Linked DNA regions of Homo sapiens: region 1 is linked to region 2. The links come from fine-mapping of genetic effects on gene expression. A gene starts in region 2. The other region holds a variant in brackets. All regions are shown on one strand. Distances are from middle to middle. Region 1 overlaps PTPRT (protein tyrosine phosphatase receptor type T). Region 2 holds the start of PTPRT (protein tyrosine phosphatase receptor type T).

What was found. PIP is the estimated chance that this variant, and not a neighbour inherited with it, causes the effect. A credible set is the group of variants that fine-mapping cannot tell apart.
Region 1: its variant is the best candidate, but not a certain one, in a credible set for the expression of PTPRT in pancreas (GTEx, PIP 0.68).

Annotation. Positions count from the first base shown.
Region 1 is chr20:42,571,635-42,577,001 of GRCh38, reverse strand. The region is part of intron 7 of PTPRT (protein tyrosine phosphatase receptor type T); the gene reads left to right. Among named protein-coding and RNA genes, the nearest start is that of PTPRT-AS1, 390 kb to the left of the region's middle. The variant A/G (reference allele first, on the strand shown) is at 2,707.
Region 2 is chr20:43,186,924-43,192,290 of GRCh38, reverse strand. It overlaps PTPRT (protein tyrosine phosphatase receptor type T), which reads left to right and starts at 2,385. Exons shown (of 31, transcript NM_007050.6): 1 at 2,385-2,645. The coding sequence starts at 2,558. It overlaps PTPRT-DT (PTPRT divergent transcript), which reads right to left and starts at 2,226. Exons shown (of 3, transcript NR_186414.1): 1 at 2,041-2,226.

The DNA of each region.
Region 1 (5,367 bases), 620 kb after region 2:
CCCTGACATTGTCCCTGACCATTCATTTATGATAGCATTTGCCACACTGTATCAAAATGGACTGTCTTCCTCATCTGACGGTAAGGCAAGAATTGGGTACCAGCCATCTCTGTGGATGAAGCAGCTAGTTGAGGGGCAGAAACCCCTTGGGAGCTCAGGGGACACTTGTAGAATGAATAAATAAGTGAAGAAATTAATAAATGAATAATCATACTAAAGAAAAGATGATTGAGAATTTACTTATGCTTTTACCCAGGAAAATGTGTAAACGTATTAGTTCCTTTGTGTCTTTCTAAACCTTAGTCCACCTTATAATACACAGAAGATTCTGAAAGCCAGGTTCTTTTTCTGACACAGATAACTCCTGGGTCAGAAAACTCCAGACTTGCAAGTTCCAGAGAACTCTGGGGCAGAAAGCCATCCCAACCAGGGCAGGCAAAGCCCCAGGGAACTCAAGCCACAGCATTTTCTGGCCTCTGGGGAAGGATGGCCAATTGGATATTCTCTGAGCTTCATCCTCCTATTGTGAGAGAGAGTTAATTGATTGACTCACCGATGCATCCCGTCAGTCAGCAGCTGTTTACGGAACACCAGCTGCAGGCCAGGCACCGTGCTGCAAGGCGTAGATATGTTGCTGAACACGACTCCCTTCCAGATGTTCAGGATTTAACAGGCAAGTAAACAGAGGGTCCAGAGAAGGCACTCAGCACTGCCTCATGACATCAGGGAGGATTGCTCAGAGGAAGTGATGCCTAAACTGAGATGAGTCAAAATGAGGAGAGGGAAGGGTGGAATTGTTAATGGAGAGAAAGTGCGCCCCTGCCAGATTATCTAGGGACAAAGGCCCAGGAGGGAGAACTCATGCAGATGCTCCAACAGGCACTTACCCCAGCTGGATCGTAGTGTAATGGATAGAGGGGTAAACAAGAGCTGATTTCCTAGCGGTCCTGAGTCTCGACAGGTTGCCACGTCAGGAGTATTGATCTTTTTCTGGAAGCGATGGTGAACCTCTGAAGAGTTTTAAGCAGAGAGGTGACAGGATCAGAACTGCATTTTATATGCTCACTCTGGCTGCTGGGTAGAGGAGACAAAAGTGAAAGCAGAATGGAGGAGGCAGGCGGGGAGGGAGCTGCTGGGGTCATCTAGGCAACAGAAGATTGTGGCTGGACTAGTGTGGCGAGGGTGTGGGCGCTGGAGAAAAGTGGGCAGGTTCAGGAGATCTTTAGAAGGTAACATCGACAGGCCTTGGCAATCTGTTACATCAGGGGTTGGCAAGCAGTTTTCTATGCATCAAATGTGGCCCACTGCCTAGTGTTGTAAGTTTTCTCGGAACATTCACGCTACAACGGTAGAGTTGAGTAGGGTGAATGTTCCAATAAACAGAGCCTGCAAAGCCTAAAATGTTTACTGTCTGGTCCTTTACAGAAAATATTTGTCTGCCCCTGGGTTAGGTGCAAAGCACTGTGGGAAGTGAGGTTACAGAAAGATTTGAGGTTGCCACCTAGATTGTGGAGGTTGGTGCGTGTTGCTGAGATGGAAACCCAGGAAGTGGAGAAGGGGATAACCCAGTCTTTGCAGCCATGCCTCAGCCTGCCATTCTACCGGTTTTTAACTGAGCCCTGCCACTTTGCCTGGCTGGCTCTTCACAGCCTTCTCCTCTGGGAAAATGGCCCCTCTTCTTCCTTCTCTGTCCAGCTGTAGCTCTGCTAACACTTGACGGTCCTTCCAAAACCTTGACCTTGCTTTCACCGGGCCACAGGATCACTTGCTGCCCCCCATCACCTTGACCAAGGGACGGGTCTCTTGGCTGGGACCCACCTTCCTGCGTCTTTCTATGTGTGTGTTACCCCCATCTGGGACTCCAGAACCGGATGCAGTCATTTTATCAGCTTTGCACCAGTCGGTCCTTTTTCCCTGTGTATTAGACCATTCTCACGCTACTATAAACATACTACCAGAGACAGGGTAATTTATAAAGAAAAGAGGTTTAATTGACTCACAGTTCTGCATGGCTGGGGAGGCCTCAGGAAACTTACAATCATGGCAGAAGATGAAGGGGAATCAAGGCACGTCTTACATGATGGCATGATGGCAGGATGGCAGGAGAGAGAGAGAACAAACGAGGAGCTGCCAAACACTTATAAACCCATCAGATCTCTTGAGAACTCACTATCATGAGAACAGCAAGGGGGAAACTGCCCCCATTATGCAATCACCTTCCAACAGGTCCCTCCCTCGACATGTGGGGATTACCATTCGAGATGAGATTTGAGTGGGGACACAGAGCCAAACCATATCACCTTTCTTCGCCCAACCCCTACCCCCACCCCAGCTTTGTTGCTGAAGCCCTAGAAGCCTTTCTGTCCACCCGAGCCTGCTCCAGTGGGCTGAGTAGCACCTGGGCTGCCACTGCCCTTTGTTCTTCCTCTCCCTCCCTCCATCCCCTGGAGCAATGGTAACTTGCAGGGACATTGGGTGCACTGTCTCTTTTGGAGGCCAGGAAACAATCCCTGCTGTCTCTTTCTAAGCAGGTCACCTTTGGTGGGTGTGTAAATCCACTTTTCTGCTTGCCAAAGTGACATTTTCATGATACCCAAAGTTATTAAGTGGCATCTTTGGACACTTTCTTTTTAACCAAAGTGGAGTAGGCTGGGAAATGTCAATAGTGATAATGTACAGTTACGTCTCCAATACCCTTTTGATTGA[A/G]CACATGATTGAAATAGTGCAAACTGCAGAGCCCTTTGCAGGGAATTGCCAGTTAAAGAATTTGTTCAGACTCACGGGTTTTTGACTGTAAACTCTGAGTGTTTTAAATAAAATACTGGCTGCCATGGCCCTCCAACCGGAAATGTCAAATGCTCTGCCTGGCTCTGCAACCCACATAGGCAGGCTCAATGCTTCTCCAACTTGGGAGCCCAAACTGCCCTCAGTCAGAAGCATAGAAAGAGTCTATCTTGCTGGGTGCGGTGGCTCACGCCTGTAATCCCAGCACTTTGGGAGGCCGAGGTGGTGGATCACGAGGTCAGTAGTTCAAGACCAGCCTGGCCAAGATGGTGAAACCCCGTCTCTACTAAAAATACAAAAAATTAACCGGGCGTGGTGGCACGGGCCTGTAATCCCAGCTACTCCAGAGGCTGAGGCAGAGAAGTGCTTAAACCTGGAGGGGCGGAGCATGCAGTGAGCTGAGATTGCGCCACTGCACTCCAGCCTGGGTGACAGAGTGAGACTCCATCTCAAAAAAAAAAAAAAAAAGAAAGAAAGAAAGGGTCCGTCTTGCCATTTTGAGACCACTGTGCTGATAACGGGGTTGTATCATCCCCCACATAGGAGAACCTGCTCTGATAAGTGTGGACAGAAGTTTGAATGGAAGGAAGGAGGGAAAGTAGGGAGGCAAGCAGGATCTGGTGAAATCAGAACTTAGATCATGGGGTAGTCACCCAGTCAGTGTCCTTCAATTCAAACTTGGGCTACAGGCTACAATTTCTCCCAGTCTGAGACCAACAGATGCCAGCTTATTCTCACCACAACACTGTCTAATGCCCCCTCTTTATTGCCAAGGACAATCCCTCTCTGGAGCTCAACAGCTTGTGTCCTTCCAGAAAAGCTCCTATCTATGGAGGAAGGGTATCTTATCCAGACCATCATGGGCAGGGAGTTGGAGGTTGGGTGGGTGGGGGGTGGACTCATGCCACTGTGGAAGGCCCCTAGTGGCCAGGGTGCTTGCCTTGCCCAGTGCAGGCTGGGCTTGTGCAGCCAGGGGCATTCCTTTGACCTTCCTGCTGGCCCCTCCTTGGCTAGATGCACCTTGTTTCTCTTACTTCCATCTTCCTGTGGGCACCCTGCTCACTGTACCTCCTACACCTTGTTGCCCAATTCCTACAACATTAATTAGTTGTTAATTAATTCATTCTGTAATTTGACAAATATTTGTTGAGCTAAGGTGCTGGACATTGGGAATAGGATGGCAAACAAAACAGACATGGGTCCTGCTCTTATGGAGCTTATATTTTAATGGAGACATATATGCCAAAAAAAAAAAAGGCTATCAATTGTGTTTAGATGTTAAAAAAAAAAAAAAACAAAAACTTATCTCTAGTGTTAGAGGTCAAGGTAGGCATTGCCTTAGGGGACTTAGTAACTGGAAGAGGTATGGGTGAGCTTCTGGGATGCCCGAGAAGGCAGAGAATGTTTTATTGCTCCAGGTGGTGTTTACACAGGTGTGTTCAGTTTGTGAAAGTTCATAGAGATTGTGCTATGTGCAAGTTCCTGGATAGATACCAAACTTTGATTAAAAGCTAAACAACTAATTAAAAAGTTAATTAATTGTAATCATGATGAGTGCTATGAAGGAGAAGAATACAGTATGGGAATGCATGAGAAGTGGACCTTGCCTGAGAGGTGAAGGGGGCTTTCCTGAGAAAGGTGCATTTTATATGGGCTCGAAAGGACAAGGGAGAGATGTTGGGGCCAACAAGAATGTGAGGAGAGCATTCCAGGCATGTGCCAGGGCCCTGGAGTAAATGAGAGCATGGCCTGTGGGTGGAAGCTGGGGGAAGACCCATGTGGCCACAGCAGAGAAGGTAAGGGGTGAGGGTTCTTGGTGGGTGGTGAGGCCAGAGGGTGGCCAGCAGAGGCCAGGGCAGGGATAGTTTTCTTTATGCAAAGAGTAATGGGAAAACAATGAAGGATGTGCTATGGTCTGAACGTTTGTGTCCACCCCAAAGTTCATATCTTGAAACTTAAACCCCATGGTGATGGTATTAAGAGGTGGGACCTTTAGGAAGCAATTATGTCAGGAGGATCCCACCCCCATGAACGGGATTAGTGCCCATGTAAAAGAGGTTTGAGGGAGCCCCCGGCCTCTTCTGCCCTGTGAGCATGCATAAAGTCACCATCTATGAGGAACAGACCCTCGCCAGACATCATATATTCTGGAGTCTCAGTCTTGGACTTCCCAGTCCCCAGAACTGTGAGCAATGAATTTCTGTTGCTAATAAATTACCCTGTCTATGGTATGTGGTTATAACAGCTCAAACGAATACAGGAGAGCACCAGGCTCTAACTCAGGTGTTAATGAGATTCTCCTGGCTGATATGTGGGACACAAGCTGTGGCTGCCAAGAGGCGAAGTGGGAAGACCAGTGAAGGGGCTGGGGCATTCTTTCCAGGGGAGGTGAGGGCATGGCTTGGACAAGGGTGTGGGAAACTAAGATGGAAAGAAGTGAATGACTGCCCCGGGGCAGTGGGGGTTGGGGTCCTCTTCCTGGATCATCTACCAAAGTTGCCCCTCAGCCTTCTTGGATAGCAGTTTGGCAACATCTAGTCAAGAGCTCTCAAAACAGTCACATCCTCTGATCCAGTAATTCCA
Region 2 (5,367 bases):
GGCCAAAGTTCCAAAGGGAAGCCCTAAGGGCTAGTGTGAGTTTCCCAGGGAGATGATACAGTGCAGGGCTTCCAGGCAGAGGGACTGGCCGGTGCAAAAGCGTGGCAGTGCTGTGGGTGCCAGAGCCTGGCCGGGCAGCAGGTGGCAGCACGTGCTACTGAAGGAGAGGGGGCAGTTTCTCGGAGTAGAGGGAGGTTTAGAAAGCACAGAGGGTCACGGTTCATGACCACGGTGCACCTGGGCAGGTAAGTCCTGGTGCAGGATCAGGTCCCACTCCACCAGCTCAGTGACTACTGAATTTTTTTTTTCCCCTCGGGGCCACATGAACCCCATTCAGACCTGGGGGATTTGTCTGCAGTGATATCACATCCCTAAAGCAGGAGTGCAGGGGGGTGCCAAAGGGCGTTGCTCTGAGGATGCTGTGAGAACTGCTATTTTATAGTTTTCCAGAAAGCTTGAGAGAGGGGATGAATTGGCAGGAGCCCAAGAAAGTGGCAACAAGTTACAAGTGTGACACCAAGCTCTTTAGTGGCTTAGAAATCTCCCCACCCGGGTCATCCCCTGGGATCTGCCATGACTGGGGTCGCTTGTGGTGGTCTTGGGTCAGGCCTCTCCTCGCACACTTCCTAACTGCTCATCTGCCCAAGGCAGGGTTAGAATGAGTGAGTGATGGAGCAAACAGCTGGAAGCTCAGCTCTGAGCAGAAGGGATCTTTCCATTCCAATTGTCCCTAAGGGCTATAGCATTGTGGTATCCCCAGAGAACAGCACAGAGTAAGGCACACAATTAAATGCACCATAAATATTGGTAGAATTATTAATCTCCAAAGCAGCTTGTAAAAGGTTCAACTCCCAGGCCACCCCCGACAGGCCTGCCAAATTCCACTCTCCCCAGCAGGGGTCTGGGAAGCAGGACTTGGAGAAATCTTCCTGGTAGTTCTTTGACCAGGCAAGTGTGGGAGGCACTGGCTGGTCCAACAGGCTAGTCCAAGCACGTCAGCTTTTGAAAGTGGTCACGGTCATGGTGGTGGTGGTGGGAGTCGGGGTCCGGAGAGGGGTGGAAGAATTTGCCTGGGATTGTAAATTGGGCTTCCATGCCAGGGAACTGGGCCACTTTACCTAGTGGGGACTGGGAACTGGGGACTGACAGAGTGACGCCCTGTGTTCTCTGCCATGCCAACTTGGGTCCAGAGCCTGGGGCTCCCCACTTTTGGAAACCCTGCCATGCTTGATTTTCACAATTCACTTACAGTCTCCCCAGTCCAGTCCCTGGTACCCCAACAAGGATGGGGGTGGGGGGCTGTGCTGACACAGAAGAAGGAGGGCTTTGGCCAGGTAGCAAAGTGTTCACAAAGTGTGAATCCCTTAAGCATTTCTGGGTATCCCTGCCCCTGGCTTTTACATCTCAGACCCCCAGCCAAGACTCAGGTACCAGCTGCCTCCCAGGACAGCAGAGAGCCAGGCTGTGGGCCGTGGGCTGCCAGGGACAGCTCCAACCCTGATCTATGGTTTTAGGCTTTCAGCCCCAACCAGGTCTTTGTTAAGACCGAGAAGAAAAGGGAAAAAGCTACAAGGTTCTGTCTCCCTAGAAAAGGAAAGGGAAGGCTGCCAGGGAAAAATTGTAGGGGGTGGGGGGATGCCTCATGCCCCTTCTGCGCCCCCTTCCGCGTGGTGGTGGGGACAAGAGAGAGATGTGGGTGAAGAAGAAGGTGGGGTGGGCGGCTAATTGAGGGGGACGACGATTGTGGCGCGGTCAGCGATGCGCCCAGAAGAGTGTGAGTGGGTTGTGTGTGTGTGCGCGCGCGCGCTCTTAGATGAAATTCTCATCTCAGGGTGTGCCCGAGACCCTGGCCAGCAGCCGCCTGCCCCAGCTTTGGGCAGACGCCCCCACCCGCTTTCGCAATTCACCTGGCCCCTTATCTTGAGTTGCGAGGGCTGCTCCCTCCCTCCCTCTTCTCGCCACCGAACCCCCATTCACCTGTTCCCCACCCCGAGTTCAAACGGCTGCTGCAGCTTCCTCCTCCCCGCACCGCCCCCGTACCTGCGCCCCCACAGGGCAGACGATGCTTGGCTGCGCGGCGCGGCGCGGGGCGAAGAGGCGAGGACCCTGCCCGGCGTGTGGGTGCGGGGGTGATGTGTGGACGCGCGTGACTGTGCCAGCGGCCCGAGCTGGTCGGCCCCGGAGAGGGTGCGCGGGGGAGCCCGCGTGTGCCAGCCGCGGGCGTGTGCCAGGCGCGGGCGTGCGCGTGAGGGTGTGTGCACGGCCGAGGCGGAGCGCCCGGGCGGGCGGCGGCGGCGGCGGCGGCGGCAACGGCGGCGGCGTTAGGACTCGGGGGACACCGCCCCCCGCCCCCCGCGTCCCGCCCCCGCCCAGCCTCCCGCCTCAGTTCGCGCCGCGCCTCGGCTTGGAACGCAGGAGCGCCGGCTCCGGGAGCCCGAGCGGAGCCAGCCGCGCGCACAGCCAGCGGCCGCGCCGGCGATGCGGGGCCACCCCGCGCCCGCCCCAGTCCCGGCCCCGGCCCCCGCGGGAAGGGGCTGAGCTGCCCGCCGCCGCCCGGATGGCGAGCCTCGCCGCGCTCGCCCTCAGCCTGCTCCTGAGGCTGCAGCTGCCGCCACTGCCCGGCGCCCGGGCTCAGAGCGCCGCAGGTGAGTGCGCCCGCCCGGCTCCCCTGGGCTCCCCGCTCCCTCCTGGATGCGCGCGGGCCCCCAGCCGCGGGGCCCTCGGAGGAGAAAGTTGTGTGGGCTCGCGGGGGCGCGGGTCCCCATGGCCGGAACCCGGGTCTCAGCTTGCAGGCGCGGGAAGCAGTGTCCCCGCGCGCCCCGGCCAGCGAGCCCGGCCCCTCGCGTCCCTCGGCAGCCCGCGTTTGGCGAAGTTCCCCGCTTCAGTTTCCTGCCGGCCCCCCGGGCTGGAGTAACTTTCCGCGGTTGTTGCGAATATTTCCACTTGCTGCCTCCCACTTGTCGGAATCTGCCACTTGAGTGTTTGGGGCGGCGAGACGAGGAGCGGCACCGACGCCCGGGGTGGAGCGTTCTCTCCCGGGCAGCTCCTCGGGCAGCGCGCGCTTTTAGTGGGGAGGACAGGTCCCCAGCAGGCCGAGGCTGCCGGGGCGGCGGCTTTTCTTTTTTCCTCGGAGATACAGGAAGCTCTCCATTTGCTCTGAACACGCTGCTCCCCTAAGCAGGCCGCTGTAGGCACCCGAGGGGATGTTTGCGTTGATGACCGAGAGCAATACCTCCGCCCTACCCGCTGGCTTTTCTCCGAGGTAGCTGGGCGCCCGTGTTAAGGCCCTTGGAGGGGAGTGGATTTGACCCGTGAGCGCGTCCGCTCCTGAAAAGTTCGGGGAACTCATATTTGGGTTTGGCCACGGGAAGGCGGTGAGCAGAGGTAGTTCCCCAGAGTAGGGGGAGCGGGGGCGGGGGGGTGGTGCCTGCCGTGCTCCTAAAGGCACGTTGGCGGGTGCTGGAGGGCACCACAGTCCAGGGTCTTACACATCACCAAGCCCCACCGCAGGCAGCTTCCACCCCCGAGCCCCCCCCCCCCCAAGAGTAGCGGCGGAGGGAAGAGAAGGGAGTGCTGCAGGTGTACTTCCAAGTTCAAAATCACCTTAAAGTTTCTTAGCACCGATTGCTTTTGGTGTAACCACGCCGGCCTGAGGTGGCTGGGATTGCGGGGACAGGCTGAGATCAGCCCGTGGGACGCAGGAACAGGCTGGTTTCGGATCGCTAAGCAACAGCTGTGCCCATTTATTATTTCACCGAAAGAAGGAAAGGAAGAAAGAAAGAGCAAAAGAACGAACCTGTGGGGAGGTACAGCGTCTTTGCACAAGCTGCGTCTGAGGTTAAGGGCCGCTGGAAGGACATTCCGTTGGAAATGCTTTAGAGCCTTCCTTGCTTGGTACTAAAATGGAAGCGGAATAGGCGACTTCTGTGAAGGGACAGCCTGTTTCCCTGGCTGGGAAGTTGGGTGACGAAGACACTCCTTTTGAGGTGTGTGAAGCTGAAAGGTTGGATTAGCAAGTGAGAGAAGAGGGACAGCTACAGCACCATTCTAAAGATGGTGCACAATTCTTGTTTTCCTCATTTTGGGGGGTGTGTTAGGTGTGCTAGGGGAGGGAGGGGTACTAGGGAGGATGCCCGGGGCAGTCCTGGGGATCCAGGCATGATTCGTGACTCAGATTTTATATCCTCTAAGGCATGACCGGCCAACCACACATTAATACCACTCACGTTCCCGCGGCAGAAACAGGATCAAAAATATTCCATCACGGGTCTCGAATCGTTCTTGGGTAGCAAGCGGTAAAACCCGTACCGGCTCGGGAAGCTGTCCAGTGCTGAACGCCGCCCGTTCCGGATGCTCCCGCCAGGTGGCGCTCGCCCACAACTATTAAAATGCAAATCTGGTTGCTTTCATATCAGGAATAGAACTTCTTTTCAATTTTTAAATGAGTAATGTGTTTATTCAGCAGCCTTTTGTTAAAACATTTAGAGAAGTGTGAGGAGCGAGCACCTTTTCTTTGTTTGCTCTTTAGAATGCAGGAGAAAGAAAAGAAATCCTGGAATATGGTTTGGGAAGAAATCTGTGGTTCTTTTGGGTCTACCTGGGCAGGGTGGTTTCTGCAAACCTGCGATATAGCATATATTTAGCAAGTGGGTGCCTTTGTGCCAGGGGCTCCTTAAACGAATGGGATTAGCTTGTATTGGAGAACTGGTGCATTCTAAGCCTCACACATTTGTAGAAATGGGGATTTTCTGTATATATCTGTCCTCTCCTTTCCAGTTTAACGGCAACTAGACCATCTAAATTAGATTTTTTTTCCCCAGGGTTCCTCATGAACATCTGTATTTGTCAAAACAAGAATACTGTAAATGTTGACTTAAAAATGGACTTATCTTATTTTATTCCTAAATTCAGAAATTGTTAGTATTTCAAATCTAGTATAAATATGACAATAACTTGATTTCCTTTAAAGTATTTTATTTAAAACTTTTGGCAAGTTTGGACAAATACATTTTAAAACTAAGTAGTGTGTTTTCCATGTTCTTTTGATCTGAAAATTCCCAATCTTGAAAGCAATTTCAATTTATAAGGTTACATCCATAACATAGTTGGGCTAATATGTTTTGCTGTAACATGTTGGTCTCAGTGTCCAAAAGTCGGGGCGGAAGCTTGTCATCAAAAGGCAATTTCCTTTTTCCTTACTCTAAGACATATTTCTTGAGCCACGACGGTTTTTGGAAGGAATGATAGTAAAAATCAAACAAACAAAAAACCTTTAGAAACAGCCTCTTAACAATGTGGCAAAACATGATTTGGGATGGGGGAAGAGAGAGACAGTTAAATGAATAAGGGGATAATGAATTCATTTAC